Regions from separate parts of the Homo sapiens genome. Here region 1 is linked to region 2. Evidence: fine-mapped expression QTL. A gene starts in region 2. The other region holds a variant in brackets. All regions are shown on one strand. Distances are from middle to middle. Region 1 holds the start of LOC105369725 (a long non-coding RNA gene). Region 2 holds the start of BICD1 (BICD cargo adaptor 1).

Region 1 (15,581 bases), 150 kb after region 2:
CTGAATATACTAAAAACCACTGAAACTGTACACTGGGTGTAAATGAGTGAATAAATGGCTTATGAATTTTATCTCTAACTATAGTTACAAAAGGCATGCTCTGAACAACTTGAAGCTGCTTGCATCTGGAGATGTCAGGGCTGCCCAGTGGAGGGATGGTCTGCCTGAAAACCAAAGCAGAGGACAGCAGAGCTCAAAGATACAGTGTCCCAAATCTTTAAAACTCTCTTTTGGATTTAGATCCTGGATCCATCAAAACCCAAAGGTTGTGCTCCATGAACTTTTTTTTTTTTTTTTGAGACAGTCTCGCTCTGTCGTCCAGGCTGGAGTGCAGTGGTGTGATCTCAGCTCACTGCAACCTCCCCTCCTGGGTTCAAGCAATTCTCCTATCTCAGCCTCCTGAGTTAGCTGGGACTACAGGCGCATGCCACCACACCTGGCTAATTTTGGGGTTTCACCTGTTAGCCAGGGTGGTCTCGATTTCCTGACCTCATGATCCACCTGCCTTGGCCTCCCAAAGTGCTGGGATTACAGGCGTGAGCCACTGCGACCAGCCCATGGACTTTATTTTCTAAGACAGAGTCTCACTCTGTCACCCGAGCTAGGGTACAGTGGCGCGATCTCAGCTCACTGCAACCTCTGCCTCCCGGATAGCCGGGATTTCAGGCATGTGCCACCACGCCTGGCTAATTTTTTGTACTTTTAGTAGAGATGGAGCTTCACCATGTTGGCCAGGCTGGTCTCCAACTCCTGACCTCAGGTGATCTGCCCACCTTGGCCTCCCAAAGTGCTGGGATTACAGGCATGAGCCACCGCACCCGACCCTGATCCATGAACTTTAAAAGTATGTCATCTAATGAATTCTCCTTTGGGGCTTGAAAAATAATAATCACCTTATGGTTTCTGTTTCTTAAAACTTCACTGGACAATACAATTTCTTTTAATACACTTTGTCATTTTAATCACCTTATTTACAAATGAAACCTTGTAATTTGATACATCAAGAGAATCTTAAGTTACTGTCATTAAATCTTTGCGATCATGAAAACCAGGAGCATAAAATGTATAGTTCCAATCTCACTTGAGATTATTTACCTCAACAGCCTCCAACTTTGCTCTTCACTTACAAGTACACTTAAGGTATTAGGAATAGTGTAAGTATTGCATAGTTGCCACCCAACAAAGCATTTAGAATTCCTCAAGGTCCAAGATTCTTTCTTCACAATCTTCTTCCAAAGTGAATGTTTAACTTGCGTATCTATAGCCAGGGTTAGTCAACTGTTATCCTGGACTTATCTCAAAATGAATACACTCCCTGTCTGTTTTACATAATAGAGTGTGCCTCTAATGGGGGAGGGAGGGAGGCCTGATTAGATTCTTGAAATTCACCTTCACAAATGCTTTTTTTTTTTTTTTTTTAAAAAGACAGAATCTTGCTCTGTTACCCAGGCTGCAGTACGATGGGGTGACTTCAGGTCACTGCAACCTCCACCTCCTGGGTTCAGCCACTTGAGTAGCTAGGATTACAGGCATGTGCCACCACGCCCGACTAATTTTTGTTATTATTAGTAAAGATGGGGTTTTGCCATGTTGGCCAACTTGAGGCCAGGGCTGGTCTCGAACTCCTGGCCTCAAGTGATCTGCCTGCCCCAGCCTCTTAAAGTGCTGGCATTATAGGCGTGAGCCACCACACCTGGCCTACAAATACGTTTTAAGCAACATTAAATCAATTCCCTAAGCATTTGAGCTCCAATTATATCCAAGACACTGATAATCTAGGAGGGAAGAGAGATTCCTGTACAATCACAGAGATAATGTAGAACAACAAAGCTTTGGGGCAAGTTTGTCCTGCCTAGGAATTTGGAGGCATTTTTTATTCCAAACAAGCCTGCAGGTAAATCCAGATGTGGACCAGTAGTGACAGGTACTTCCTAACAAAACAAGACCTACAAAAAAGAGAATCTAAGAGGATCTACAGTGATGGGTTTAATCAATAAAAAGCTCATAAATTTAGAGCTTAAATGAACCAGCTGAATTTCTGCTAAGGCAGCATTACATGTCCCAGGCCACAAAATCTATTTCCTCTAACATGACAATAGCTAACATTTATTGGGCACTTGCCATGCATCAGGAGCTGTTTAACTGTGATATGCATGAAACTCATGTAACTCTACCATAACAATCCTATGACATTAGTGCTTGTCCCCATTTTATAGATGAGAGAACAGGCAGAGGTTTATTTTCCAGGGTTGGCTGAGTGCTACAGCCAAGATCTGAACCAAAGCAGTGTGGTTACAGGGACCATGGTCTTAATCATTAGGTGAGACTTCCTAACACACTTTGTGGTTACAGATGAAAGCCCTGGACATGATCACTTTGGCTGCACGGGAAGCATCCTCCCAGAGTGGTGCTCTGCGCCACATTCCCCTATGTGCCACCAACAGTAATAAAATATAATAAAAACAATCAAATAAACACAGCACAGACAGAAGCAGACCTCTGCCCAGGTAACTTCCACCACAATTCCCTTACCAAAGACCTCTTTCCTTATTTTGCTAAGATTAACAACTGATTTTTCAGTACTATGCCAACAACATTTCTTCTCAAGCTTTGCTGTCAATTCCATTGTGACCCACAGTTTAATTTAAAACCGATGTTGATTCACTGAGCTAGTAATTTTATTCGGTAATAGGTGAATTACTCCATAGTTGAGTGTGAATAACCGCCTGGTTAAATCAGGGCGGGTTTCTTAGAGGTGATACACTTACCGTTGAGCACAACTTTACTCTTTAATTATCGTGTACATTCCCATTTCCCTCCAAACACGTCAGTCCCTCTCCACACAGTGTTTACTTCTTTGGTCCTAGGGACAGCAAGAAACATTTTATAATAAAAGAGCACATGCTAATGTGTTTACTAGATATGACACTGCTGTGCAAAACTGTTTTCTTTTATGGCTGCACTGAAAGCATGCTAAGTTTACTGAATTCTTATTAAGTGTCCTAAGTAACAGAAATAGAAACTAGGTCTGGCCTGAAAATACCATTCACTTAAGTTAGAATTTATGTGCGCTCCTCTAGGTCCGCTATTGTAGTATCACTGCAAAACAATAATACTTTATCTCTGCACTTGTCTTTATTGGATTAATATTAAACAGAAAAAAATCCGACTGCACAGGGGAAAAAACCTAAAACCTTAACATGCATGCACATTAACAGTGACTGAAACATGATTAAAGCTAACACATTTAGCAGAAAAATGCAATCCCCAAACAAGCTCTGCGGCCCGCCTACTGAAATGCACCCGCCCGCCACTAAATGAAAATGCGCCTCAAGCTCATACACATCCTTATGTTAAGACAGTATGCACTCGATGTACTACAAATAAATTGTTTTCACGGAAATGATTCCCCGAAAGTTTGCTGCTGAACTCAGGACCCTAAGGACGTTTGCTTAGGGAATCCGTGTCCCTCGAGAACACCTAAGATGGGTATGCGTTTGTGCATTTAAAAATGCCTCAAGGAACTATTGCTGAGGAACAGAAACCATCGCCGGCGCAGAAGCGTTCGCGGACCACTTGGAGATAGATGCCAGTACAGCAATTCTGTTCCAGGAGGCTTCGGCTTAAGAGGGCCGGGGAGGAGGAGAACCCTCGGGAAATAGCAAAAAAAAAAAAAGATTTTTCTTTTTCACTCCAGCGACAGGAAAGCCTTAAAAACATAAGCAGCTCTCATACCCACCCGCCTCACCAGCCGCGCCTCGCAGTTCGACAAAATGCGTCCTAGCCTTCGCCACTCGCGACCTCTACCGCGCAGAGCCAGGCAATGAGGGAAAACAGCCAGCGAGGCCCGCCCTCCGGTGCAAGGCTCGGCATCCGCGGAGGCCCAGGGCCGGCCCCGGTGCGGCGGGCAGAAGCAAGCGCGGCGGCCCGGCCCAGCTCCGGTGGGCGGACGGCGGGACGCGCGAGCCGGCGGGGCCCGAGGCCCGGGTTCCGGGGCCGCCCGCGACTGCGTCTTTGCCGCAGAACAAAAGCGCTCTGCGCCGCGCGCAGGCCCGGACCGCGAGTGCCTCTGGCTCCCGGCTCCCGGCCCCCGCCCCGCCCGGACCCCGGAAGGCGGAGGGACCTCGGGGTGCTCGTCTCACACTTACCGACAAAGGGAAGAGGACCACCCCGGCAAGCGGGGAGAAAACCGGCGGCCTCCCGGGCCCCAGAGTTTAAGTCAAGTGGGGTCCGCCTCCAGGGGCGGGTCGAGGAGCCAGGCCCAGGATCCAGGAACAGCTACGCTCCGCCTCACGCCCGAGGCGGTGGCTGCGAGGGCCGCGCCGCCGCGGTCCTAGTGCCACCAGAGAAGCCGCGGACCCGGCCCGCAGATAACACCCGGGCTTGCAGAGCGCTTTCATCTGCCCGACGCGGAAATCTCCTGCAGCGATCTTCTACCTTCAGCGTGCATCCGCAGCACCCAGAGGGCACGTTAAAGAGAGATTGAGAACCACCAGCAAAACTGCTGATTCAGTAGGTTTGGGGTGGGGCTGAAAAATGTGCATTTCTAACAAGTTCCTGAGACCGACTGTTGCTGCTGGCCTCAGGACCAATTTTTTCTATAAAGCGCATGGAAGTCAGAGTGCACCCAAGAGATTGTTAACCCTTAAAAAACAGAAAAAAAAAAAAGAAATCAACAAGTTAGAGGCAAATAAGTGTGAAAGAAAGTGGATAGTCTATTTGGGGATTCTGAAAGTCCCTGAGGAAAGTTGACTTTGGAGACCAGATCACGAAGCACGACCTCTTAATTGCCGACCTTTTGTTATAGATTAACTCCCTTATTTTCTTGTTCCCAGCTCAGACCAGATGGCATCTGAGATAAAATACGCATTGAATAAGATAAATGACCGCTTGACTATTACATCCTTAATGTGGAATGTTAAATAGACCCTTCCCAAAAAGAAACACTGCCTTGAACCAATCAAATTGCTATGCGTTAACCTTCTATGGAAAATGTTGACATCCTGTTAAGCTTCCCAGACCCTGCCTGTGTAAACGACCCTCAAACTTCTCCCTTTCGAAGCACTGACCCCCATCTTTTGGAGTCTGTGTCCTACCGGGTCGCCATCCTCAAACTTTGCACTCAAATAAACCAATATTTAATCATATTGCCCGAATCTCATTATTAAGGTTTACGTAAGCGTTTACTTAGTAATGAAGGTTGCAACCAGGATGGCAAATCAGAGATTGTGCCACTGGAGAGGGGCAAGGGAGCTTATGTTTATAGGAATTTATTTGTTACATAAATTGTCAGATTAGTTCATTGGTGAATTAAACGAAGAAGTCTTTAGTCATTACTAGAAGAGTGCGTTTGCGTCTGTCAGAAACAAAACAAAAAAACTACATACAGAATATTCTTTCTTTTTTGGGGGGGGGACGGAGTCACGCTCTGTCGCCCAGGCTGGAGTGCAGTGGCACGATCTCGGCTCACTGCAAGCTCCGCCTCCCAGGTTCACGCCATTCTGCTGCCTCAGCCTCCCAAGTAGCTGGGACTACAGGCGCCCGCCACCATGCCCGGCTAATTTTTTGTATTTTAGTAGAGACGGGGTTTCACCATGTTAGCCAGGATGGTCTCGATCTCCTGACCTCTTGATCCGCCCGCCTTAGCCTCCCAAAGTGCTGGGATTACAGGCATGAGCCACCGCGCCCGGCCAGAATATTCTTAAAGATTGGGGGTGGCCAGGTGTGGTGGCTCAGGCCTGTAACCCCAGCACTTTGTGTCACGCGCATCCGTGTGAAGAGACCACCAAACAAGCTTTGCGTGAGCAACAAGACTGTTTATTTCACCTGGGTGCAGGCGGGCTGAGTCCGAAAAGAGAGTCAGCAAAGGGTGGTGGGATTATCTTTAATTCTTATAGGTTTTGGGAGAGGCTCCGCGGAACAATGTTTTGCGGGCAGGGGGTGGATCTCACAAAGTACATTCTCAAGGGTGGGGAGAATTACAAAGAACCTTCTTAAGGGTGGGGGAGATTACAAAGAACCTTCTTAAGGGTGGGGAGAATTACAAAGAACCTTCTTAAGGGTGGGGGAGATTACAAAATACATTGATCTGTTAGGATGGGGCAGAAACAAATCACAATGGTGGAATGTCATCAGTTAAGGCTATTTTCGCTTCTTTTGTGGATCTTCAGTTGCTTCAGGCCATCTGGATGTATACGTGCAGGTCACAGGGGATATGATGGCTTAGCTTGGGCTCAGAGGCCTGACAGTTTGGGAGGCTGAGGTGGGTGAATCACTTGAAATCAGGAGTTTGAGACCAACGTGACCAACATGGTGAAACCCTGTTTCTACTAAAAATATAAAAATTAGCCAGGCGTGGTTGTGGGCACCTGTAATTCTCAGCTACTCGGGAGGCTGAGGCGGGAGAATTGCTTAAACCCAGGAAGCAGAGGTTGCAGTGAGCCGAGATCACGCCACTGCACTCCAGCGTGGGCCACAGAAAGAGTCTGTCTCATGAAACAAAACAAACAAAAAAAGATTGGGGATCAGGCGTGGTGGCTTATGCTTGTAATCCCAGCACTTTGGGGAGGATCACTTGAGGCCAGGAGTTTGAGAGAGCAGCCTTGCCAACATGGTGAACCCAATCTCTACAAAAAATATACAAAAAACAAAAAAAATTAGCCAGGAGTGGTGGCATGCGCCTGTAGTCCCAGCTACTTGGGAGGCTGAGATGGGGGGATCACTTGAGCTTGGGAGGCAGAGGTTGCAGTGAGCCAAGATTGAGCCACTGAACTCCGGCCTGGGTGACAGAGTAAGAGCCTGTCTCGGAAAATAATAATAATAATAATAATAATATTGAGACCAGCTTTCTTGGGTTGTGTGTTGTTGCAAAAACGGTTGTGTTAGATATGAATTCTAAATTTCTCTTCAAAGAATCAATATGTCAGTATGGTCAATCTTTGCCTTTTACTTTTAAACTTAACTTCCTCGTAAAGCAACCTTTTTCCATCACCTGCTCCACCCTGACTCATTTCAATCACCTGCTCCACCCTGACTCATTCCGATTTCCTGCCCCGCCTTAACCATTTTTCCTGCCAAACCGCTCACCCCATCACTCTCTTTAAATTAGCCAATCAGAATTAGTTTAGCCTGTGCGGTCTAACCCTAGCCAACAGGGGAACGACACAGCAGCAGAGGCCACGTGCATCAGGAATAAGAACCCCTTCCCCTCCCTTGCCCAGGTGTGAGCTCACCATTGCTCCATCTGTGAGGGCGCACCCGTCTATAGAAGTACATTGCCGCCGGGCGCAGTGGCTCACGCCTGTAATCCCAGTACTTTGGGAGGCCGAGGCAGGCGGATCATGAGGTCAGGAGATCAAGACCATCATGGCTAACACTAAAAAATACAAAAAATTAGCTGGGCGTGGTGGCAGGTGCCTGTAGTCCCAGCTACTCCGGAGGCTGAGGCAGGAGAATGGCATGAACCCGGGAGGCGGAGCTTGCAGTGAGCCGAGATTGCGACACGCACTCCAGCCTGGGCGACAGAGCAAGACTCTGTCTCAAAAAAAAAAAAAAAAGAAGTACATTGCCTTGCTGAGAATTAAAAAGAAAATTTATATTCGAGTGCTATTTCTTTTGCAACACCAAAACTTTATTTATAACAGTTGTTTGTGAAGGAAATATTTTTCACAGTTTCTTCGTGGGCCTCAAAGTTTAGCAGCAGCTCAGCATGGAGTCAATAGCCCAAGATGGAGTCACTGATATCAAGCCTGGAAAATTGCTAAGCTGCATTAAGGAGACTTTTTTTTTTTTTCATGCTATTGTAGTAAGGACAACATCCATTAATGCAGAGGAATCTTTTCAAAGAAA[A/G]TGAAATAGACTTAGGGTTTTTATAGGAGGAAGTAAACAAGGAAATCTTGTCTGAATGATTAAGGGATGAGAAAGGGCAGAGGTGGTTAGTTAGTGCTTGTGACATAAGAGGGCAGACTATTCCTTTGCGCTTGAGGTTTGTTGGTTTTGGTTTTTAATTTTTGTAGTCTTCAGTATCTCCTATATCCACCACCATCACCACCTCCTCCATATGGATCTACATAATCTTTTCCACCATAATCTCCCCTCCCACCATCATCTCCTCTGCCTTAGAAACCTCCTTTACCACCTCCATCCCACCTCCTCCCTCTCCCCCACCACTTTCCCATCCTCCTCTACCCCAGCCAACTCTTCCACCTCCACCCCCACAGCCTCTTCTACTACCACCTCTACCTCCACAACCACCACCCCAACCACCCCTTCCGCCACTGCCTTCTTGTCTCTTTTGCCAAGGGGGCATTTCAGAGGGTGGTGGTTCAATTTCATTTGGCCAGCCTCCCCTGTCAGGCACCCTTCCCATCAGCACCTTATTAATGGCACATGCCATCATCTGGCTGGCTCCACTGCTTGTCCTAATGATCTTGGATAGATTATCATGAGCAGCAAGTAGATGCACCATTATAATCGCTGTCTTGGGTGACAAAGCATAACACTGAGGCTGGTAAATTCTTGCTGTGTCATCTTTTCTTACCTTGGCTGTATCACACCGTGCAACGGACTGTATTGCCGCATCTAATTGTTTCATAACATTCGCTAGAGGCACTCATGTTCACAGGAAAGAGCATCATTGACTCTTTCCAGTTGTTCTGCCTGTTTCAAATTTAAATTAATTTTCAGCAGAGTGGTTTTCTTTAATTTTAATAAAAAAATTAACAATTTTTAAAAATTTGAAATAAGATGGGATCTTGCTATGTCACCCAAATTGGTCTCCAACTCCTGGGCTCAAGAGATCCTCCCATCTCTGCCTCACAAAGTGCTGGGATTATAGGCATGAGCCACTGCGTCCTGCCTGTCTTTCACCTTTGATTCCACTTGGTTTAGCATAACCAGAATGTCAGAAGTTGTTTACTTGGGTACACCAAGGTTATCACACAGAACTTGAACTTCCTGATAAATTTCATTATTTTTATCTAATTGAGAATTTTAATGTTTCTTGTTCTGTAATATCTGTGAAGCTTCAAGTTCTGTACTTAAAAATAATAGGAGTTTCAAACAGTCCTTTTTATATTTTTTTATTTACAGTGGCGCGATCTCAGCTCACTGTGGGCTTGACCTCCTTGACTTAAGCAATTCTTCCACCTCAGGCCCCCAAGTAGTTGGAACAACATGCATGCACCACTACACCCAGCTGATTTTTGTATTTTTTGTAGAGATGGGGTTCACCATGTTGCCCAGGCTGGCCTTGAACTCCTGGGACTCAAGCAATCTGTCCACCTTGGTCTCCCAAAGTGCTGGGATAACAGGTGTGAGCCATTGTACCCAGCCAGTCCTCCTTTTTTAAAATGATCTTTAGTATCTCCTGATATGAGTACAGAATATGGACATGCCATTTCTTTTAAAAAAATCATTTACCTCAAGCTGGAAGCTCTCTAGATCATCTCTTCCAGCAGAAGTCATACTTTCTTCCAAGTTGCATAATGATTTTATTTGAAAGCCTAACCATATCCTGTATAGGAATTTATATAGTTTATATATCTATTCCTTTACAGTATATACCACCTTCTTCCTGTATAAAAGCCTATATATATAATCCTATACCGTATATGCTCCTACATATAGTCCACTCTGCTGCCTTCATAAGGGCTTGCTCCTCTAGCAATGGTCCCTTATACCCCAGCACCTCCAGTGTGTCTAGCACATCTCCGTCTATTGTTGGTTCAGGACCCGGCTCTGGCCCTCTAATGGCTCTTTGGCTCAAACCTGTTCAGTGCTCTTAAGTATGCCCCAAGGTTTGAATCTTGTTTTGCAGCTCCCTAGTGATAGAACTTTGTGGGAAAATCACTTCATTTTTTTGTTTTTTCGCTCTTCTGAAAAATGGGGATAACAATAATACTTACCTTATTTAATTTTTGAGATAGTTACATGAATTAGTACATATACCTCACTAGGAGCAGTTCCTGGAACATAGCTGGACACACTTGGCTCAGATAAGGGATTTTCTAGCACCTAGCCACGCAGGTCAGCAAGTAAAAACAAACCCAAGGAGAGGGACTTTTGTTGCCGGAAATTCTGATAGGGACCCCACTCCTATACAGCCTAAGGAGGGCTTAGTGTCCGTTAGGATTTAATGTCTGGGAAGCATTTGGGATAAAGTAGCTGATCTCTCTGCCATGTATCCTTGTCTGTACTTGTGCTGATTTTATCCTCTCTCTGCTAGGTAAGTAAAGGTTGTCTGATTTTTCCAAAAGTGTTTGATCTTTGCACAGTCTTAAAGTACAAGTGATATTCATCAATAGAGTAGTCTTAAATGGTCACCAGTAAGAAACTTGCAAAGGGAGAATGCAATCTCATGGACCTGAAAGTTTGTTTACTCAAGAGCCAAGCTTTACACTGTCTTCTCTCTAAGAGATTTACAACCTAGTGTGCCAGAAAGCCTTGTCAACTGGTCAGGCTTGGGAAAGATTCCCCTCATAGATTAGATTGCTCCATACTATGCTCCCTTTCATAAATTACGGGATCCTCTCCCTATGTTTCCCAGCATTCAAAAACAAAGGCTCTCTTAGATGCTATCTGAGTCTTTCATGAGCATAGTACTTAGCCTTAAGGCTTGTTAAGTCTTTTTTTTTTTGAGACGGAGTCTTGCTCTGTCGCCCAGGCTGGAGTGCAGTGGCAAAATCTCGGCTCACTGCAACCTCCATCTCCCAGGTTTAAGCAATTCTCTGCCTCAGCCTCCCGAGTAGCTGGGATTACAGGCACCCGCCACCAGGCCCGGTGAATTTTTTGTATTTTTAGTAGAGATGGGGTTTCACCATCTTGGCCAGGCTTGTCTTGAACTGCTGACCTTGTGATCCACCTGCCTTGGCCTCCCACAGTGCTGGGATTACAGGCGTGAGCCACCGAAACTGGCCAAGGCTTGTTAACTCTTAAACTTATAAAATATGTTTTAGAAAATGTTTTAATGACATCATTAACATATCTATAGTAAAAGTTATTTTGGTTTGCAAAAAAAAATGCCTATTCATTTAAGTTGTAAATGAGGTCATTAGTTCTTTTTCTTTTCTTGATTGCTCCCTATAATCTGTTTCCCGTTCTTCCTTTTTTTTTGAGATAGACCCTCACTCTGTCATCTAGGCTGGAATGCAGTGGCATGATCTTGGCTCACTACAACCTCCGCCTCCCTGCTTTAAGCGATTGTCCTGCCTCAGCCTCCCAAGTAGCAGGGATTACAGGACCGCACCACTACACCTGGCCAATTTTGTATTTTTAGTAGAGATGGGGTTTCACCATGTTGTCCAGGCTGGTCTAGAATTCCTGACCTCAAGTGATCTGCTTGCCTCAGCCTCCCAAAGTTCTGGGATTACAGGCATGAGCCACCACGCCAGGCCTCCCCTTCTTTTTTGTTTCTTTCCCCTTCTTGTTAGTAATGGTTAGCTGGGTACAAAGTCAGTTTGTATGTAGTCACTTGGAATGTAAGTAGAGATTATATTCCCCCAAGTCTCTCTTGCAGCTAGATGTTGTCAAGTTTCAGTTCTCATAATGACATATAAGCAGAAATGTTATATGCAACTTCTGCCTAAGGGAATGGCTTACCGTGAAACTCTTCTTACATTTGCTTGGATTGGAATGTAGAAATGGCAGTAACTTAATTTCAACCATGCAAAAAAAAAAAAAGAAATAACTCCTGAGGGCAGGAACTCTTCTCTGTTTTTTTGACCATAAACCTCTTTGGTAGTTTGGTAGAGCCCATGGACACCTTCTTAGAATCTTTTTTTTTTTTTTTTTTTTTTTTTAAGACGGATTCTTGCTCTGTCACCCAGGCTGGAATGCAGTGGCACGATCTCAGCGACAACCCCTGCCTTCCAGGTTCAAGAGATTCTCATGCCTCAGCCTCCCTGAGTAGTTGGGATTATAGGCATGGGCCACCAAGCCCGGCTAATTACAGACAGGGTTTCACCATGTTGGCCAGGCTGGTCAGAAACTCCTGACCTCAAGTGATCCACCCGTCTCGGTCTCCTAAAGTGCTGGGATTACAGGCATGAGCCACCATGCCTGGCCAGAATAATCTTTTGAATGCATAAAATAAAATATGTGAGATTACAAAGGAAATTAATTCAAAATGAAAGTTATCAAATATTTTAAAAAATCAAATATGTAAAATGTGGTTAGGCTCTGTTTCCCCACCCAAATCTCATCTTGAATTATAATCCCTATAATCCCCATGTGTCAAGAGAGAGACCAGGTGGAGGTAATTGGATTATGGGGGTGGTTTCCCCCATGCTGTTCTCGTGATATTGAGTGAGTTATCTTGAGATGCGATGGTTTTATAAGGGACTCTTCCCCCTTTGCTCAGCACTTCTTCCTGCCACCTTTTGAAGAAGGTAGCTTGCTTCCCCTTCTTCTGTCGTGATTGTAAGTTTCCTGAGGCCTCCCCAGCCATGTGGAACTATGAGTCAATTCAATCTCTTTGTAAATTACCCAGTCTCAGGCAGTTCTTTATAGCAGTGTGAAAACGGACTAATACAGTATTTATACATTTCTTTAAAGGGGAGAAGGCATGTGGGAAGGAGGGGGTAGGGTGGTGAGGCAAATGGTTATACTTTTGTGGAACTATTAATTAATTAGAGCTCAGTAAATCTACATTTTATACAGATAAGGTGATTATATTATAAAGAATTCAGAGAAAAAGGGAGTAGAGGAAGAATCAATTATGCAAACATCTCAGGGTAGGTGGAGGAATGATTTGTTCTGCTCCTGGGAAGATCAGCTTGTAATTGACATTATCAGTGTGACTCTAGCAAACTTTAGTTTTAGGAGCTAGACTTAGATGGTAGACCTAAAGTTAAAATGGACATGGTTCTTGTTTTATGGGAGGATGTACATCTTGAAAGGTTTTGAGGCCAGCAAAGAGTTTAGTTGGGAAAAATTTATGAGGGCCATCATGTGGAGATGGTATCAGACCTTCTGCCTTTCTGTGAGGGTCTGGGTAATGTATGATGCTTTGACACCAGGTTGTAAAGTAATAGCTGTCTATTTGGGAAAAGGATAGCAGTGCTGCATGACCCAGCACTGCTGCATAACAAGTTTGGGGGTCCTAAGATGTTTTTATTTCTCCTTTACAAGTCACAGGGACTGCTCAGCTGAATGAGCCCTGCTTCCAACCGTCTCACAACTTTGAATCATCACCTCAGCCTTTTTTTTTTCTTTTTTATTGAGATGAGTTCTCACTCTGTTGCCAGGCTGGAGTGCAGTGGTAAAATTACGGCTCACTGCCGCCTCAACCTCCCAGGCCCAAGAGATCATCCCACCTCACCCTCCAGGGTAGCTGGGACCACAGGTGTGTGCTAGCACGCCTGGCTAATTTTTGTATTTTTTTGTAGAGATGTGGTTTTACCATGTTGCCCAGATTGTTCTTGAACTTCTGGGCTTAAGTGATCCACCCACCTCAGCCTCTAAAAGTGCCATGATTACAGGTGTGAGCTACTGTGCCTACTTAAGCCTTTTTTTTTTTTTTTGAGACTGAGTCTGACTCTGTTGCCCAGGCTGGAGTGCACTGGCACAGTCTCAGCTCACTGCAGCCTCCACCTCCCGGGTTCAAGCCATTCTCCTGCCTCAGCCTCCTGAGTAGCTGGGACTACAGGTCCGGGCAACCACGCCTGGCTAATTGTTGCATTTTTAGTAGAGACAGGGTCTCACCATATTGGTCAGGCTGGTCTTGAACTCCTGGCCTCAGGTGATCGGCCCTCCCAAAGTGCTGGGATTACAGGTGTGGGCCACTATGCCCAGCCCCACTTAAGCCTTCGTTACCTTTATTGTCTTTGGTATAAGCCTCTGGATATGATTTGTTTTTACTACTCAAGGTTCTCACAGATGACCTGGGCTCATAGTTCCAAGAGAATTTTGGGGCCTGTGTATTTATTTCTTCTTTGTTCTTTTTATTTGAATATGAGCTCAATGTTGTGCGGTAAATAGAATTAAATATTGGATCCTATGGCAGAATCTTACTAAGGACATTCTAGAACTTTAGTGGCTGTTCTGGTGAACTTTGGATGTGAATAAGATAATCTGTTTTTGGCACCTTACAGTCAATGGTTAAATGTTCCCAGATATTCAATAATTAGCGTTTTTAAATGACCAGGAAGAGTCCTCTCAAAGGAAAATTCTAAAATAGCTTCTATTAAGGACTTATTAGAAAAGGCCAATAAAAATATAGAGGACCTAAAAGCCAACGTTTAAATCTCTTCTCCATCTCTTGCCTAACCCGGGATTAACTTACATCCTAGACCCCTGGCCCTCAACTTCCTCCTGCCTTTCTATTGGGGGAGCCCACCCCCAATATTTCAATGTAGGTTCTTTCTATTTTGCATAAGTGTTGGCTGGCTGAGAAATAAAGAGAGACAGTACAAAGAGAGGAATTTTATAGCTGGGCTGCCAGGGGTGACATCACATATCAGTAGGACTGTGATGCCTGCCTGAGTCTCAGACCAGCAAGTTTTTATTAAGGGTTTCAAAAGGGGAGAGGGTGTAAGAACAGAGAGTAGGTACAAAGATCACATGTTTCAAAGAGCAAAAAGCAGAACCGCTGATAAGAGTCTAACAAAGATCACATGCTTCTGAGGGAACAGGGCAAAGGGCAAAAGCAGAACCACTGATTAGGGTCCAACAACGATCACAGGGCAAAGGGCAAAAGTAGAACCACTGATAAGAGCCTATGTTCAGCGGTGCACATATTGTCTTGATAAACATCTTTTTTTTTTTTTTCTAGTTGTCAAATGATTCTTTATTGAAATATTTTCCTTTGTGCTTAACTGGCTGGGCATTCCACAGCACCACTGTTGATGTCATCTATGATGTCATGAGGGTAGTGGCCATCAACATTACAGCCCACAGACTGGGCAGTCCCCAGGATCTCTTTAATGGTTCCAGAGAGTTCTCTGGCTAAGGATCAGTGCCGCATCTGTCAAGCAATGTTGACGATCTCATCAAAAGTTATATTCCTACTGTGTTTAATGTTTTTCTATTAATTTCTGTCTCTTGGTGCTTCCTTGAGGGCTTTGATGATCAGGGCAGAGGCAGAAGCCACCACCTCAATCTGGGTCTGTCTGTTCTGAATGGTCAGGTTGACTGTAATCCTCAGGCCCTTCTAGTCACCTGTTTCCTTGGCAATGTCATCACCAACCTTTTTTGGAGACAGACCAGGGGGCCGATCTTGGGGGCCAGTGCAGAAGTGGCACTGACTTCACCTCCGGTGCACCTCAGGTATACGACTTTGATCTCATTAGGGTTGAACTTCGGTGGCATGGTGGAGGCGGCTGGTGTCAGATGAACCTGGATTTGGGATGACTAAAGAAAGTTGCACCTTGGCCTCCTCTGAGGTGAAAGCTGAGAGTGATGAAACATCTTAAACAACAGAAAATAGGGTTTGAGAGCAAAGAACCAGTCTGACCACAAATTTACTAGCGCTGAGTTTTCCCAACCCTAGTAAGCCTAAGGATTCTGCAGGAGAGGAGGGCTTATCTCAGTCCTTATCTCAACTGCACAAGACAGACATTCCCAGAGTGGCCGTTCATAGACCT
Region 2 (15,581 bases):
TCCCACATCCCCAGGGTCACCCAAACTCTGAGCTTCTCGGGTTTTCTTCCCTAATCGGTCTCATTTTCTTCACACTTCACCAGTGCTTTAAAAATGCAGCTTTGTCTCGTAAATACCTGCCTTTTGAAAGGACATACTACTAAATTTAAAACACCAGGCTGCAAGATCCTGTTTTTATAAAAACAAAGGAAGAAAAACAGCAAAAAAAAAAAAACCAAAAACACCACACACACAAAAACCCTGCCTATATGTTTAAAGACATTTAAAACAAGTACAGAAGAATACTCAGCAAAGTGTTAACAACAGAGACAGAACTGTGGGAGAAGAAGGGAAAACTATTAATTTATATATGCTTTTCTCTAGCTTGGAGTACTGCAATAAAAACTGTCATAATTACACAATTTTAATTCTTAAAAAGCAAACTCTTGAAATGAAAAATAGAAAAGGCTGGGTGCAATGGCTCATGCCTGTAATCCCAGCACTTTGGGAGGCTGAGGAGGGAGAATCGCTTGAGGCCAGGAGTTCAAGACCAGCCTGGTCAACATATTGAAACTCCCCCGCCGCCCACACCCCCCACCAAAAGAAAAGAGGAAAAAAACCCACTTAAATTAAAAATGCTAATGCATCTTCAATAAAGATTAAATAAGATTGATAAAGATTAGTCAGTGAGCAGTGAGGACTGTTGCTCCCAGCCCCCATAACCCTAAATGGTGAGTAAGGGCTAATTTTCCACTTAGGCTGCCTTCTTAGACCTTACTGTCCCCAGTCAGCTTTTTTGCCCATCGTTTATTTGTTTTCATTTTTCCTAATTTAGAAAGCAATCAAACTAACTGGTGAAAACATTATTAAATTGTTTATATCCCATATTCTAGAAATTAGGCTTCTATAAAATAACAACCAATTGCACAAATTAATTTTTTTTATTAAATTGAAAGTTAGCCTGTAATCCTAGCACTTTGGGAGGCCAAAACAGGCGGACTGTCCTTAGCTCAAGAGTTCTAGACCAACCTGGCTTACATGGCAAAACCCTGTGTCTACAAAAAAAATACAAAAATTAGTCAGGCATGGCGGTGTGCACCTGTAGTCCCAGCTACTTGGGGGCTGAGGCATGAGGATTGCTTGAGCCCAGGAGGTCAAGGCTGCAGTAAGCCACGATCACACCACTGTACTCCAGCCTAGGTGACAAAATGAGACCCCATCTCAAAAAAAGAAAAAAAAGAAAGTTGAGGATCTGAATCCATCATGCAATGTACGCTTCCCCAGCAAAGAAAACATGAATTAAAAGGACTTATGTGGCTGGGCACAATGGCTCATGCCTGTAATCTCCACACTTTACGAGGGCAAGGCAGGCAGATCGCTCGAGCTCAGGAATTTCAGACCAGCCTGGGCAACATGTTTGAAATCTTCTCTCTACTAAAAGTACAAAAATTAGGCTGGGCGCGGTGGCTCATGCCTATAATCCCAGCACTTTCGGAGGCCAAGGTGGGTGGATCACGAGGTCAGAAGATCAAGACCACTCTGGCCAACATGGTGAAACCCTGTCTCTACTAAAAAAAATACAAAAACTAGCCAGGCGTGGTGGCGCGCGCCTATAATCCCATCTACAGGTGGCTGACGCAGGAGAATCACTTGAACCCGGGAGGCAGAGGTTGCAGTAAGCCGAGATTGCGCCACTGCACTCCAGCCTAGGCGACAGAGCGAGATTCTGTCTTGGAAAAAAAAAAATTATTCAGGCATGGTGGCAGGCACCTGTAGTCCCACCTATTCAGGAGGCTGAGGCAGGAGAATCGCTTGAACCTGGGAGGTGGAGGTTGCAGTGAGCTGAGATCAGACCACTGCACTCCAGCCTGGGTGATAGAGTGAGATTCCAGCTCAAAAAAAAAAAAAAAAATTACCCAAGCATGGTGGTATGCTCCTGTAGTCCCAGTTACTTGGGAGGCTGAGGCAGGAGAATCACTTGAACCCAGGAGGCAAAGGTTGCAGTGGGCTGAGATCATGCCACTGCACTCCAGCTGGGGAAACAGAGGGAGACTCAGTCTCAAAAAAAAATTAGCCAGGCATGGTGGCATGGGTCTGTATTCCCAGCTCCTTGGGAGGCTGAGATGGGAGGATCACTTGAGCCAGGATGGTTAGTTAAGGTTGCGGTGAGCTGTAACAGCACCACTGCACTCCAGCCTGGGTGACAGAGAGAAACCCTGTGTCAAAAACAACAGAAACTCATGTAACTTGAGCATCAATTTCACCCTCTAAAACTGCTCTGCCCCATAATACCTTCCTTTGTAAATAGAACCACCTCCTATCCAGCCTGAGAAGATTCTCAGCTCCACTGTCTTCCTCACTTTCCACATATAGTAACATCCAATGCCTGTTCCACCCTACCTCCCAAATAGCTCTTAGACGTGCCCCCTCCTCACGATCCCTACTGCCACTGTCTGTCCCACCACACAGCCTCAATCCACCCACTATGACCATCACCATAACCTTCTATACTGCACTTGTAGACTTGGCAGAGATATTTCATATTCAAGGTAGTATGATGCAGTGAAAAAAAAGTGGGCTTCTTCCAAGTTTCATCGTTTAGTTTTGTGGCCCTGGGAAGAGACCTAAACCTCTCTAAGACCCAGTTTCCTCTTCTGTATAATGCAAGAAACACCTACCTTGAGTAAGGATTGCTGCATGAATTAGAGGTGAGGCTTGTAAAGAACCTAGTTCTAAATGGAGCCTTGTACCTAAGTCAATGCTTTATTATTTTTATTATCTTCTTATCAGTAAAAATGAGCAGTAAGCCCTCTGAATTGTTTTGAAGACTGGTGAGATTAAACACAGTGACTGTTTCATTTATTTTCAATGGCTCCACATCCCCAAGACAAAATGTGGCCATGGCCCTTTCACAATTGCATCTCCTGCCACTTGACTTTACGTGCATTCTCCTTTAGCGTAATGAATTATTTAATACTAAGACTATGCAGCCCTTCATGCCCTCCTCTCCTCAAAGCCATAATTACAGGTGGAATCTTATGTGTGGGCAAGTCCTTTATGTATATTTCAACATGCAAGTAATTAATTACCGTATTTTCAAATTTGGAAAGCAATATCCATGAGTACAACTATATTTAAGGGGATGATAGGGCAAAATATTTGCAAGCAGAAAGTTCTGAAGAAACCTTCAAACCATCGCTGTCATACATGTTCACATAAACATGGGGAATGTGATAAAAGATGATAAATTCTTGCTAAGTTATATCTGAGAAATAACTTCGCCAGAGACGAAATCTTGATTTCAAATAAAAAGAAGGGGCTGGGCGTGGGGGCTCACGCCTGTAATCCCAGCACTTTGGGAGGCTGAGGCAGGCGGATCACCTGAGGTCGGGAGTTCAAGACCAACCTCACCAACATGAAGAAACGCTATCTCTACTAAAAATACAAAACTGGCCAGGTGTGGTGGCGCATGCCTGTAATCCTAGCTACTCGGGAGGCTGAAGCAGAAGAATCACTTGAACCCAAGAGGCAGAATTTGCGGTGAGCCGAGATCACACCATTGCACTCCAGCCTGGGCAACAAGAGTGAAACTCCATCTCAAAAAAAAAAAAAAAAAAAAAAGGGATAGTGCAAGTTAGAGCAACTGGGTCCAGAAAAAAAGAAATGTGATTGAAAGCGATGATGTTTATTTGTTGAGGTTGTTTGTAAACAGTTTCCAAAAGCATATCTTAATGTATTTTAGATTTTAAGATTAATTTGATAATAAATGTAAATATTTTTTCTTTAAAAACATCGAGACCATCCTGGCTAACAAGGTGAAAGCCCATCTCTACTAAAAATACGAAAAATTAGCCAGGTGTGGTGGTGAATGCGTGTAGTCTCAGCTACTCCGGAGGCTGAGGCAGGAGAATGGCGTGAACCCGGGAGGTGGAGCTTGCAGTGAGCCGAGATCACACCACCGCACTCCAGGCTGGGTGAAAGTGCGAGACTCCATCTCAAAATAAAATAAAATAAAATAAAAAAATAAAAACAATGAGAGAAGTTAAAAATCATAGTTCAGATAGATCAATTAAGTATTAACTGTCTCTTTATGTTTATTCATAGATTGGAAAAGAAATCTGGGGTTTTTCTTGCCATATGATTTTGTGATTTAGAACTTAAAGATATAAAAGAAACTAACAATCTTTCTAAGCATCTGAAGGGAAAACAATTCTGCTTAAAGATGAATCTAGGTAATTTAAGTGGCATTCATCAGGTCACCAATGTGACAAGCTCTAAAACTGTGTAAGTACATATTTTTGTGTTGAATGATTTAACTATAACCCTGAAAAAGAATAGAGTTGGCTCCAAAAGAAAAAGCTGCCCAATGTCCAGAAAGTGCTTCTTCAGCAGCTGGTAACTATCCTTGGTGTCAGGGTTGACAAAATAAGCAAGAAAATGGGTTGAAGCTCATTAGTGCATAGTTTACGGTATCCAAGCTGCAAAACTTTTCTAAAGCTGTCTCACAGATACATTTCCTTTTTAAAATGCCATCAGTAATGCTGAATCATTCCTTTCTAAGGGGCTCTTTTTCAACTTTACAACATTTTAAATTTCAACCATTTTTAAGTTAAAAAAAAACTCTTTTTTTTTATTATTATACTTTAAGTTTTAGGGTACATGTGCACAACGTGCAGATTAGTTACATATGTATACATGTGCCATGCTGGTGTGCTGCACCCATTAACTCGTCATTTAGCATTAGGTATATCTCCTAATGCTATCCATCCCCCCTCCCCCCACCCCACAACAGTCCCCAGAGTGTGATGTTCCCCTTCCTGTGTCCATGTGTTCTCATTGTTCAATTCCCATCTATGAGTGAGAACATGCGGTGTAAAAAAAACTCTTAAGTTTAGATCCAAGGTATTTTTATATATGTATATTTTTAGTTTTCAGGTTATTTTGGAGCTATGACTCTTCTTCAAACACTATTCTGGCCTGGGTGACAGGCGCACAGTGCTGATTTACGTACATCCCAAACATATAATCAGCCAGGCCCTGAACATAACTGGGCATGGGTGACCCTCACTCAGGTCACTGAAGAGCAAGTGTTACTTGTGAAATCACAAAACCAGACTCAAGTATTCTAGTGGACATACTGCTCTGTCCAGCTGCCCAAAGAATCATGAAAAGGAGAACACTTTGATGATGTCAGAAGTCATCCTTTTTTCAAATCCTTAGTACTATTCTTTCAAGTGTGTTCTTCTGTGAGCTGAATTACAGTAGTCCATGCAGAGCACTAAACAACATCAGGCCAGGTCAAAAAACAATTGAGTTGAGGGAAGAAATAACTAGGAAAAAAATTTAATGAATTTCATCTTCTTGATTTTGCACATCTTTAGGCAACACTGCCGACTTGCATTATTGTCACAGCAGTACCTAGCCTGGGAAGGAAGGTAGCAACATTGGTGGGTACTGACTCTGGAAAACAAAATGATCTGCAAAGACTGAGCCATGTTGCTATACTGCAAATTACTAATGTCCAATTTGGACTTAATACAGTAGTTTTCTGTTGACATTCCCATAAACTGGTTCAATTATTTTTAAATAAATCATATTTGTTCAAAAATCCTAGAAATAAGCAAAGATTTATTTTATGCTTGGCTTTATAGATATAATGCAACATCATTTACTATACATACCTGATGAGCAAAACTTTCTTTTGAAAAATCAAAACACTCACAAAATATTTTTCAAAACTGAGGTGTTGGAACACCTCAGTTTGCACAATTATTTTGGATTTACTTTTCATACAAGAAATGTTACTTGAAATCAATTTAACTCATTTAAGTTATATTTCCAACTAAAGTATATTCTATGTTTAAAGAATAAAAATAATAGGCCTCACTATCAAATAATCAACTATAATAATTTTATTACCTAAAATACATTTTTATATAACTGTATAAACCAGTTTTTTAGGAATCTCGAATTTCACTTATGCTAAATGCAACTGAAAATAAATATATGAACAAGAATCGTTTAGTAAAAATAATGCTGGTAAATTTTTATTAACCTCCTGCTATATAGAACAAAATATATATTAAAATATTTATAGAAAAAATTTTAGTTGGTATTTGCATTATTCTGTATTAAGAAACCACAGTTACATTATTCCTACAAAACGTTTTTTTCACATTTTTCTCATTACTGCTGGTGAAACTAATACAGGTAGTTTTATTAACATCTGTCACTTCCTATACATCCTAATTTTCTTAGTATTTATCTAACACTAATCAATATTGACTAGTGAACCCTTGATAAAAGTGTGCCTTCTTCTAGTACAAACTGATTCTTTCATAAAATATTTCATGCCCACTGTGTGCTAGCTTTTGTGTTAAAGACTTGGGATGCAAAGCTCATGGTGTAGCAAAGGCAAAACACAATTGCATTAAGGTTTGCTATGCAAGGTAAGTGCAATGACAGAAATATCCCTAGAAGGATTGTTTAAATCAAGCAGCAAAGTCAGTAAGAGGTACATTTCATTAAATTAAGTCCATCTCCTTTATCAAGAAGGTGATGGCTTACCACTTTCTGGTTTGCACTTCCCTATCTTGGCAAAGCAGTGTTGATAGGTATAGACAATATCAAAACATCTCTGAGAATGACAGTCATCATCCTGCTTCCTCACTTCACAAGGTTTAGCATCACTGCATTTAAACATGTCAGCCTAATCTAAGTTGGAAAATATAAACAAGTCCAGCTGTTGTTAAGACCAGACAGGTACATGGTAAGTAAAATAGGAACCAGAAATTTACAGCCTGACACACAAAAATTAGATTCCTAGTTGGGATTTTTAATCATAGGTAGTACATTTATTTTTTGGTAGACAGGCATCCAAATAAAAATAAGACATATCTAAAAGTATAAATGCTTACCATATTACACACTAAATTGGAAGGCAAGTTGATTCAGTATGTCATAAATCACATCTTTTAACTGTAACAGCATAAAATAAATAATAGATTTTTGATATTATATGCCAAACAATAATTAACATTTAAATGTCAATATGCACCTAAAAATAAGGACTTGACACACAGAAAAGGAGTGTATATTACATTTAAATTTGTAAGTGGTTATTTGCTACCCATAGTGCCTCAAGAATCAGATAAAAAAGACCGAGTTACTTAAACAATATGTATGTTCTTAAGAGTGACTGATAGGAAATCAAAGCACGTTCATTGTTTTCTCCCATACATCCGACAGGCTTTAAAAGAGGCCAAATACCAAAAAACTAAAGAGACATTATACATCACCCATTTTTGATATTCTGGTTTTATAAATATATCATTTCAACCAGAAGAGCCTCATTTGAAATGCAACACTACCCACGTATTTGATATACACCACTCTTTCAGACTATTTGTAGGTGAGTTCAATTTTTTCTAGTCAGGGTGACCTCATAAGACTTGGACATGGCCCAGCCTCGCTCCGAGGTGAAATCAAGGCAGTGGGATCACCCAGCAAAGTTGTTTTTCTTCTGCAGCCCAATGACAAGAATGACTAAAGCCAAGCAGAATGAAGATTGCCTAGCCTTTGTCAAATGGGATTGGTGAGGAGTTCCCTCTCTCACCAAGGAGTGGTTACATCCAGAGGAAAGCTGAGGTGCCACACAGTCTAAATCCTGAAATTGTGGGTCCTCAGGCACAAACCTCATCACTTTTGTGGACTACGAAATTGTCGCTGAAACCTGGGTTTGAGATAACAGCGGTTTTGAGAAGTTTGATTTATACATTCCAACCCACTTGAATGTCGTCTTAGAGTGCTGAGACTTGATGACTCTTACTAATCTCCCTCCCCCGCAGGCCAAACAGCCATTGCCTCCCAAATTCCAGCTTATATATTCATTTCTTAGGCAATTTTTCTCTTGGGGGAGGAAACAATGGACTCTTTCAATCTTCTCTTACCAACAAAGGGCCCTAGAAGAAAAAACAGTCCTTTCAATCACCTCCTTTATGACTTCTTGATCATGATGAGTGGGCCTTGCGGGTGGGGGGAGTGAGGGCCAGGAAAGGGAGAGGTGACAGGCAACTCACCTCTTTGAGCTGCTCCAGCTCCTGTTTGAGGCTGTCGTACTCAGCCTCCAGTTCATCATACTGCTGTTTGAGGGTCAGCTTCTCCTCCAGCACCACCAGCCCGTACTCGGCAGCCTGGATCTTCTCGTGGGTGGTCTCCGTGAGCTCCTTGGTTAGCCTCTCTATCTCAGTCTTATAATGGTCCACCGTCTGCAATACCTCTTCTGCGGCCATAGCCCCGGTGGATGGAGGCAGGAGGGGGTTACGGGGTGGGGGAGATGGATGCGAAGCTGGCGGGGAAAGGGAGAAGGAAATGGGAAGGGATGGGTGGAAACGGAAAAGAAAGTGCGGCCGGATGAATGAGCAGCGCGATGCCCCGCCGGCTCTGGTGGCAGCGGCAGCTACACCGCCCGAGAAACTGACGAGAAATGCAACATGGAGAACAGGGCAGAGGGTCAGGGGCGAGGCGGCAAAGGCCGCCGCATGTGTCCTCGGGGCCGGCCCCTGCGTGCGGTCAGCAGCCGTGCGGCATGGCCCGGGCTGCGGCGGCCGCGGGTAGCGAGGGGCTCCGGATTCTGCTTATTCAGAGACGCCCGTCCGCCATGTCTCCCGGGCCGCGTCACTGCAGTCTCGCCCTGGGTCTGGCGCGCTCCGGCTCGCGGCTCGCTCTCTCGCTCCACCTGCTCCCTCTGGCCCTGCAGCAGCCGGTGCGGAATGATGCAGTCTCGGGGCCGGCTCCCTCCCTTCCCGCGTGGCGGCGGCTCCGAGCAGGGGGCGGGGAGCGGATGGAGTCAGCGCGGGGGGCGGAGGGAAGGACCAGACGGAAACATCCCGAGGCGCCTCCCGCCGGGCGCGCGGGCCGCCGCCCGCTGCACCGTGAGGCGCGCCAGGAGGAGGCGCAGGCGACGGGTCTGGGACTGGGAAGCGGTGGGGCGCGCGCGGCGGGGGAGCCTCCGCCCTGTCCGGCTCGCGGGGGCGGGAGCTCCTCCCAGGGCTTTGTCCCGGTGGCAGTAGAAGACCCCGAGAGCGGCGTGGGCGCCCGGGCTCTTTTGCTACGTCGAGGGCCGAAGCTCAGGAAACTGCCTGGAACGCTTTCTCCCGAGAAAAGCAAACAAAACTATCGCGGTCGCGGTCCGCGCATCCTCCTCGTCCCCTGGGCGCGCAGAAGGCTTTTTGGGCCACCTGCCCCCAAAAGACCGCTGGGTTTCCCAAAGCTTTCAAGACGCACCCCAAGGCGCCCTCCTCCGTCGTCCCCCTCTCTCCCTGCCTCTCCCAAGTCTGGCCTGGGCCACCTAACACTCTCACCAGATAACCTTACTATCCTCACAGGACAGTCCGCTAAATATTGCTCGCCCTCACCCAGCGTATCACAAGAGCGCTATCCACTCAGAAAAAAAATATCTCCACAATACATGCACCCAGGAAACCTCTAGCTAGGTACTGTATATCTTGCCCCAATAGTTTCCATCAAAGCACCTTACTCTGTGTCTTCAATAAAGGAAAACTGCTTGAAATTCCCTATATAAGATACCAACGATGCCCTGTAATAAGCATTTTTTAAACAATAAGAGCTAAGAGTTCTTGAGACCCATACCAAGCATTCTTCTAAGTATGTAACATGCGTTCTCTCCAATCCTAACAATGCTTTGAGGTAAGAGCCATTATCCTCAGTTTACAGGGGGTGAAAGGCAAAGGGAGATGTGATTTGTCCAAAGTCAGGCAACTCTGGAATCTTAACTCGGGAGCACTAAACGGGATCATTATGTTGGCTTCAGGTTCACTCATTACTCATACAAACCCAGCAACTACATATTACATGCTTTTAAGATAATCACATTAATCCATATGAAGAGTGATGATGAACGGTTACAAAAGGAGGTGAAAGCAAAGTAAGAGTGGAGTAAATGAAAGAGTGGAGAAGGGTCGAGAATCAAGAGGAAGAACGCAACATGAGAGAAAAGAAGCAATTTCTGTGTAACGGGAGGCTGTGAGACCCACAGATCAGTGGGTCTTTCCAGTTCCCTCTCTTCTTCTGCATGGCACCTATTCCAGAGCTGTTTCTCAGTGACCAGGTGATGAACACACATGCGTTTTCTAAGTTAGAAAGCAGGACTCAACTCTCCCATCATTGTGTACCTGGTAAAAAAAAAAAAAAAAAAAAAAAAGATGATTGTTGACCGGGCACAGTGGCTCACGCCTATAATCCCAGCACTTTGGGAGGCAGAAGTGGATGGATCATTTGAGGTCCGGAGTTCAAGACTAGCCTGGCCCACATGGTGAAATCCCATCTCTACTAAAAATACAAAAATTAGCCAGGTATGGTGGTGCACGCCTGTGATCCCAGCTACTTGGGAGGCTGAGGCAGGAGAATTGCTTGAATCCAGGAGGTGGAGGGTACAGATGGCACCACTATACTCCAGCCTAGGCAACAGAGACTCCATCTCAAAAAAAAAAAAAAAAAAGGACACTTGTTGATGGCGTGGGAGAAAAAGCATATGACAGTGCCCTTCCAAAGTTTCCACTAGCAGGCTGTCTGGATGTGTTTTCCATTGCTTCACAAACCAGACAAGTTTCCTTCTAAACGCCAGCGATCACAACAGAATATTCTCATGTGATTGTCTGATCTAAAAATAAAACAAAAGAATATTCTCTTGTGATTGTCTGATCTAAAAATAAATAAATAAAAGGAGAAAACATTCCAAATGTGCAGCCACCATAAATTCCAGCCTTGTAGAGAAGCGGATGATAATGACTACAACATCCGACCCATCTTTCCTTATCTCGCACTCCAGGTGGGAAGCCCCTCCTGTGTGCTCCCGTGGCATCTGACCTCTGACACGTTGATGAATGATGATGAACTGCTGAAAAGAGATGGAACCTGCAATTGCAGGTAGCTAACCTGCCTTCCCAGGAAGCCTCTGGCTGTTCCTCACTCTACAAACTGTAAGCATAGGCCTTCCAAAGGGATCATAAGACTCGCACTAGATTGCCTGTGCCTCCCTCTCCTTTGGATCAAACTAAGAACAGAGTTTGCCTCTGTGACTTTCCTTTTTGCTAAATTTCCATTGTGGTCCAGCCCCTATGCTCTATCCTGCCCCGTTTTTCTGATTGATACACTTTTGTCACTTGTCACTTTTGTCTGATTTCAGGCATGTCTTGCACACTCTGACACTTTAAGATGTTGCTTAGTTGAACTTTGATCCTTAAATGTTGGTATTTAACGTAAAGAAGATAAACTTATTTTCTTGTTTTTTTTCTCTTTTTTTCTGAGACAGGGTCTCCATCACTTAGGCTGGAGTGGAGTGGCATGATCATGACTCCCTGCAGCCTCAACCTCCTGGACTCAAGCGATCCTCCCACCTCAGCCTCCTGAGTAGCTGGAACTACAGATGAATACCACCACACTCAGCTAATTTTTTAAATTTTTGTAGAGACAGGGTCTGTCTATGTTGCCCAGGCTGGTCTCAAACTCCTGGGATCAAGTGATCCTCCCACCCTGGCCTCCCAAAGTTCTGGGATTACAGATGTGAGCCACCATGCCCAGCCAAATTTATTTTCCTATACACCATGCTGTTCCAGTACTGCATAGTTACAGTTCCCTCTTTTTTCGTATATGCCATATGTATTGCATATATATCAATGACAGGTATATAGAAAATAATTTCTTAAAGCATTCCTAGGCTGGGTGTGGTGGCTCATACTGGTAATCCTAGCACTTTGGGAGGCTGAGGCAGAAGGGTCACTTGAGGCCAGCAGTTCAAGACCAGCCTGGGCAACATAGCGAGACCTCATGGCTACAAAAAATTAAAAAATACTAGCTGGGCATGGTAATACATGCCTGTGGTCCCCAATACTTAGGAGGCTGAGGCAGTATGATGGCTTGAACCCAAGAGATTAAGGCTGCAATGTACTGATTGTGCCACTGTGCTCTAGCCTGGTGACAAAGCAAGACTCACCAAAAGAAAAGAAAAAAAGGCCAGGCTCGGTGGCTTACACCTGTAGTCCCAGTACTTTGGGAGGCCGAGGTGGGCGGATCATCTGAGGTCAGGAGTTCGAGACCAGCCCGACCAACATGGTGAAACCCCATCTCTACTAAAAATACAAAAATTAGCTGGGTGTGGTGGTGGGCGCCTGTAATCCCAGCTACTCGGGAGGCTGAGGCAGGAGAATCACTTGAATTCGGGAGTTGGAGGTTGGAGTGAGCAGAGATCCGCCACTGCACTCTAGCCCAAGTGACAGAGTGAGACTCCGTCTCAAAAAAAAGAAAAGAAAAAAAGCAAAAAAAAAAAGCACAAGCTAGTCTACTTGGGTCATATCCAACTTTGCCACTTACTAGCTGTGTGTTTCTCAGTTGTGTCATATCTAAAAAGGAGATAATAATATAATCTAATTATGAGATTGTTGTGAATAGAATAGTATCACACACATAAGCATTTTATATGTGCTTTTTAAAAGTTTTAAAAGAAAAACAAGGATAAAATTTAGGTAGAAAGAAGAAAAAAAGATAATCAGTAGAGATCTCTCTGAAGAAGTGATATTCATTTTATTATCTATGAGGAACAAAAAGGAGTCGGATATACAAAATGTGGGGGAGAAGCTTTTCAGGGAAAGGAAATAATGTGTAAAAGCCAAAGGCAGAAAAGAGCTTGTTGAGTGCAAAGAATAAAAATCTGAGAGGCTGCTGGGTGCAGTGGCTCATGCCTGTAATCTCAGCACTCTGGGAGGCCAAGGTAGGAGGATTATGTGAGCTCAGGAGTTCGAGACCAGCCTGGGCAACATACCAAGACCCCATTTCTACTAAAAAAAAAAAAAATTTTAATCGAACGAGCATGGTGGTGCATACCTGTAGTCCCAGCTACTTGGGAGGCTGAGGTGGGACGATCCCATGAGCCTGGCAGTGAAGGCTACAGTGAGCCATGATCGTGCCACTGCACTCCAGCCTGGGTGACAGAGCAAGACCCTGTCTCAAAAACAAATAAAAAAAAAAAAAAATGAAAGAGGCTGAGGATTAAGAAGCTCAAGGGAAATGGCCTAAGACTATATCAAGAAGTCAGGCAACATCAGAGAGATAGGCGGGAATTATACTTGCCTTGCAAGTCAGAATGAAGAATTTGGGTTTTATTCTCAGGGGAGGCCTTTGATGATTCTTTAGTCAGGAAATGAAATAGTTCTATTTGTATTTTAAGAATGTCAGCTGGATGCAGTGGCTCACGCCTGTAATCCCAGAGCACTGTGGGAGGCTGAGGCAGGCTGATTGCTTGATTCCAGGAGTTCAAGACCAACCTGGACAACATGGTGAAACCCCGTCCCTACAAAAAAAATTTTTTTAATTAAAATTTTTCTACTGCACACACAAAAAAGTTGGAAGATATCAAAAGATAGAAGTAGGGTCCCTAGTTAGGAAGTTGTTGCAGTTGTCCAGGAAAAAGAAAATCATGGCCTAGACTGAGATGATAGCAGCTGGGAAAAGAAGTACATGGATTTATATTGAGGAAGGAGTGGAATGGGAGAGTAGAATTCTTAAGACCTTTTTGAAGACTGAATGTGGGATAGGGAGAAAAAAGGAATCATAAATAAATTCTAATTTTCTGACTTGGGAAGACGGGCCGCCATTTAGTTAGATGGAACAGTTTTAAGAAATCAAGAGTTCTATTTTGAACATATTAGGCTTAAGACACTTTTGAAACATTTGTGGGGTTTTTGTTTTGTTTTTTTGAGATGGAGTCTCCCTCTGTTGCCCAGGCTGGAGTGCAGTGGCGTGATCTCGGCTCACTACAGCCTTTGCCTCCCGGGTTCAAGCGATTCTCCTGCCTCAGCCTCCCAAGTAGCTGGGACTACAGGCATGTGCCACCACACCCAGCTAATTTTTGTATTCTTAATAGAGACGTGGTTTTGCCATGTTGGCCAGGCTGGTCTTGAACTCCTGACCTCAGGTGATCCGCCTGCCTTGGCCTCCCAAAGTGCTGGGATTACAAGCATGAGCCACCGTGCCCAGCCACTTTTGAGATATTTGAATAGAAATATTAAGTCAATAATTTGATGTAAGACAAAAATTAAGAAGAGACTTCTTAGGAGGTATGATGACTTTGCTTTGAAAATCACTAGCGTTAGAGGGCATTGAAACCCATGGAAAACAGATGGGATTATCTAGGGAAAGATGTAAATAAAGAAGAGAAAGGGGTCTAGGATCTAGCCCTGAAGTATCCCTATTAAAGGTTGAGTTGGAAAGGAAAAGCCAGCAAAGAGAGTTGAGAGGGACTGGGTGGGGGGAAAATCAGGAGAGAAACATTTGAAAGGTAACAAAAGAGAAGTGTGTATGAGGAGCGAGGGAATAAGGACCAAGTCAGTGCCAACAAGAGGTCACAGCCAAGTACTATAAGGACACAAAATGTCACTGGATTTGGCAACATGGAGGTGGGTGCTCTTGATAAGATTCATTTGTGTGGAACAGAGAAGGCAGATACCAGGTTGTAGTGGATTACAGCATGAATAGAAATTTAAGATGTGTGCTGGGCGCAGTGGCTCATGCCTGCAATTCCAGAACTTTGGGAGGCCAAGGCAGGCAGATCATCTGAGGTCAAGAGTTTGAGATGAGCTTGGCCAACACGGCGAAACCCTGTCTCTACTAAAAATACAAAAATTAGCCAGGTGTGATGACGCACACCTGTAGTCCCAGCTACTCGGGAGGCTGAGGCAGGAGAATTGCTTGAACCTGGGAGGTGGTGGTTGCAGTGAGCCAAGATCGTGGCACTGCACTCCAGCCTGGGCAACAGAGCGAGACTCCATCTCAAAAAATTTAAGATGTGGAGACAGCCTAATCAGACAACTCCATGTCCCCAGAAATGATGGCAGGGATAACACACAATGAGAGGGTGTATCTGTGGGGCACTGGGGTGCTCTGCTGTGAATGGCCGGTGGGAAATCTTCCCTTCAAGAGCACTTCACATAGTGAGACCTCCAGATGCACTTTCAAGGGAGATGTGTGGCTTCCACACCAGTGCCTTCTGGGGCCAGGACTTCATCTCCAAGCTGCTTGGATACCAGCTCTCTCAGTGGCTGCCCTTGTCCACTTTAATCACCTGTACCCTGTAGGGGTGGGTTGCCCCTACACACCTGTGGGTGTTTCTCGTAAGGTGGGACGAGAGATTTGGAAAAGAAAAAGACACAGAGACAAAGTACAGAGAAAGAAATAAGGGGACCCGGGGAACCAGCGTTCAGCATTTGGAGGATCCCGCCAGCCTCTGAGTTCCCTTAGTATTTATTGATCATCTGTGGGTGTTTCTCAAAGAGGGGGATGTGTCAGGGTCACAAGACAATTGTGGGGAGAGGGTCAGCAGACAAACACGTGAACAAAGGTCTTTGCATCATAGACAATGTAAAGGATTAAGTGCTCTGCTTTTAGATATGCATACACATAAACATCTCAATGCTTTACAAAGCAGTATTGCTGCCCGCAGGTCCCACCTCCAGCCCTAAGGCGGTTTTTCCCTATCTCAGTAGATGGAGCATACAATCGGGTTTTATACCGAGACATTCCATTGCCCA

The links. PIP is the estimated chance that this variant, and not a neighbour inherited with it, causes the effect.
Region 1: its variant is fine-mapped to the expression of BICD1 in whole blood (INTERVAL, PIP above 0.99).

The regions. Positions count from the first base shown.
Region 1 is chr12:31,948,059-31,963,639 of GRCh38, reverse strand. LOC105369725 (a long non-coding RNA gene) reads left to right here and starts at 4,336. Exons shown (of 2, transcript XR_931503.2): 1 at 4,336-4,512; 2 at 4,836-5,147. RESF1 (retroelement silencing factor 1) reads right to left here and starts at 4,225. Exons shown (of 6, transcript NM_018169.4): 1 at 4,149-4,225; 2 at 2,769-2,863. It also overlaps the pseudogene RPL12P32 and the pseudogene LOC100132543. RefSeq lists enhancers at 85-585, 5,307-6,100, 6,104-6,603, 10,831-11,332 and silencers at 1,512-1,571, 3,915-4,254, 14,558-14,758. The variant A/G (reference allele first, on the strand shown) is at 7,849.
Region 2 is chr12:32,100,021-32,115,601 of GRCh38, reverse strand. BICD1 (BICD cargo adaptor 1) reads right to left here and starts at 8,755. Exons shown (of 10, transcript NM_001714.4): 1 at 8,058-8,755. The coding sequence starts at 8,270. BICD1-AS1 (BICD1 antisense RNA 1) reads left to right here and starts at 8,140. Exons shown (of 3, transcript NR_185992.1): 1 at 8,140-8,208; 2 at 10,829-10,926; 3 at 11,312-11,485. RefSeq lists enhancers at 7,148-7,785, 8,313-8,392 and a silencer at 8,753-9,232.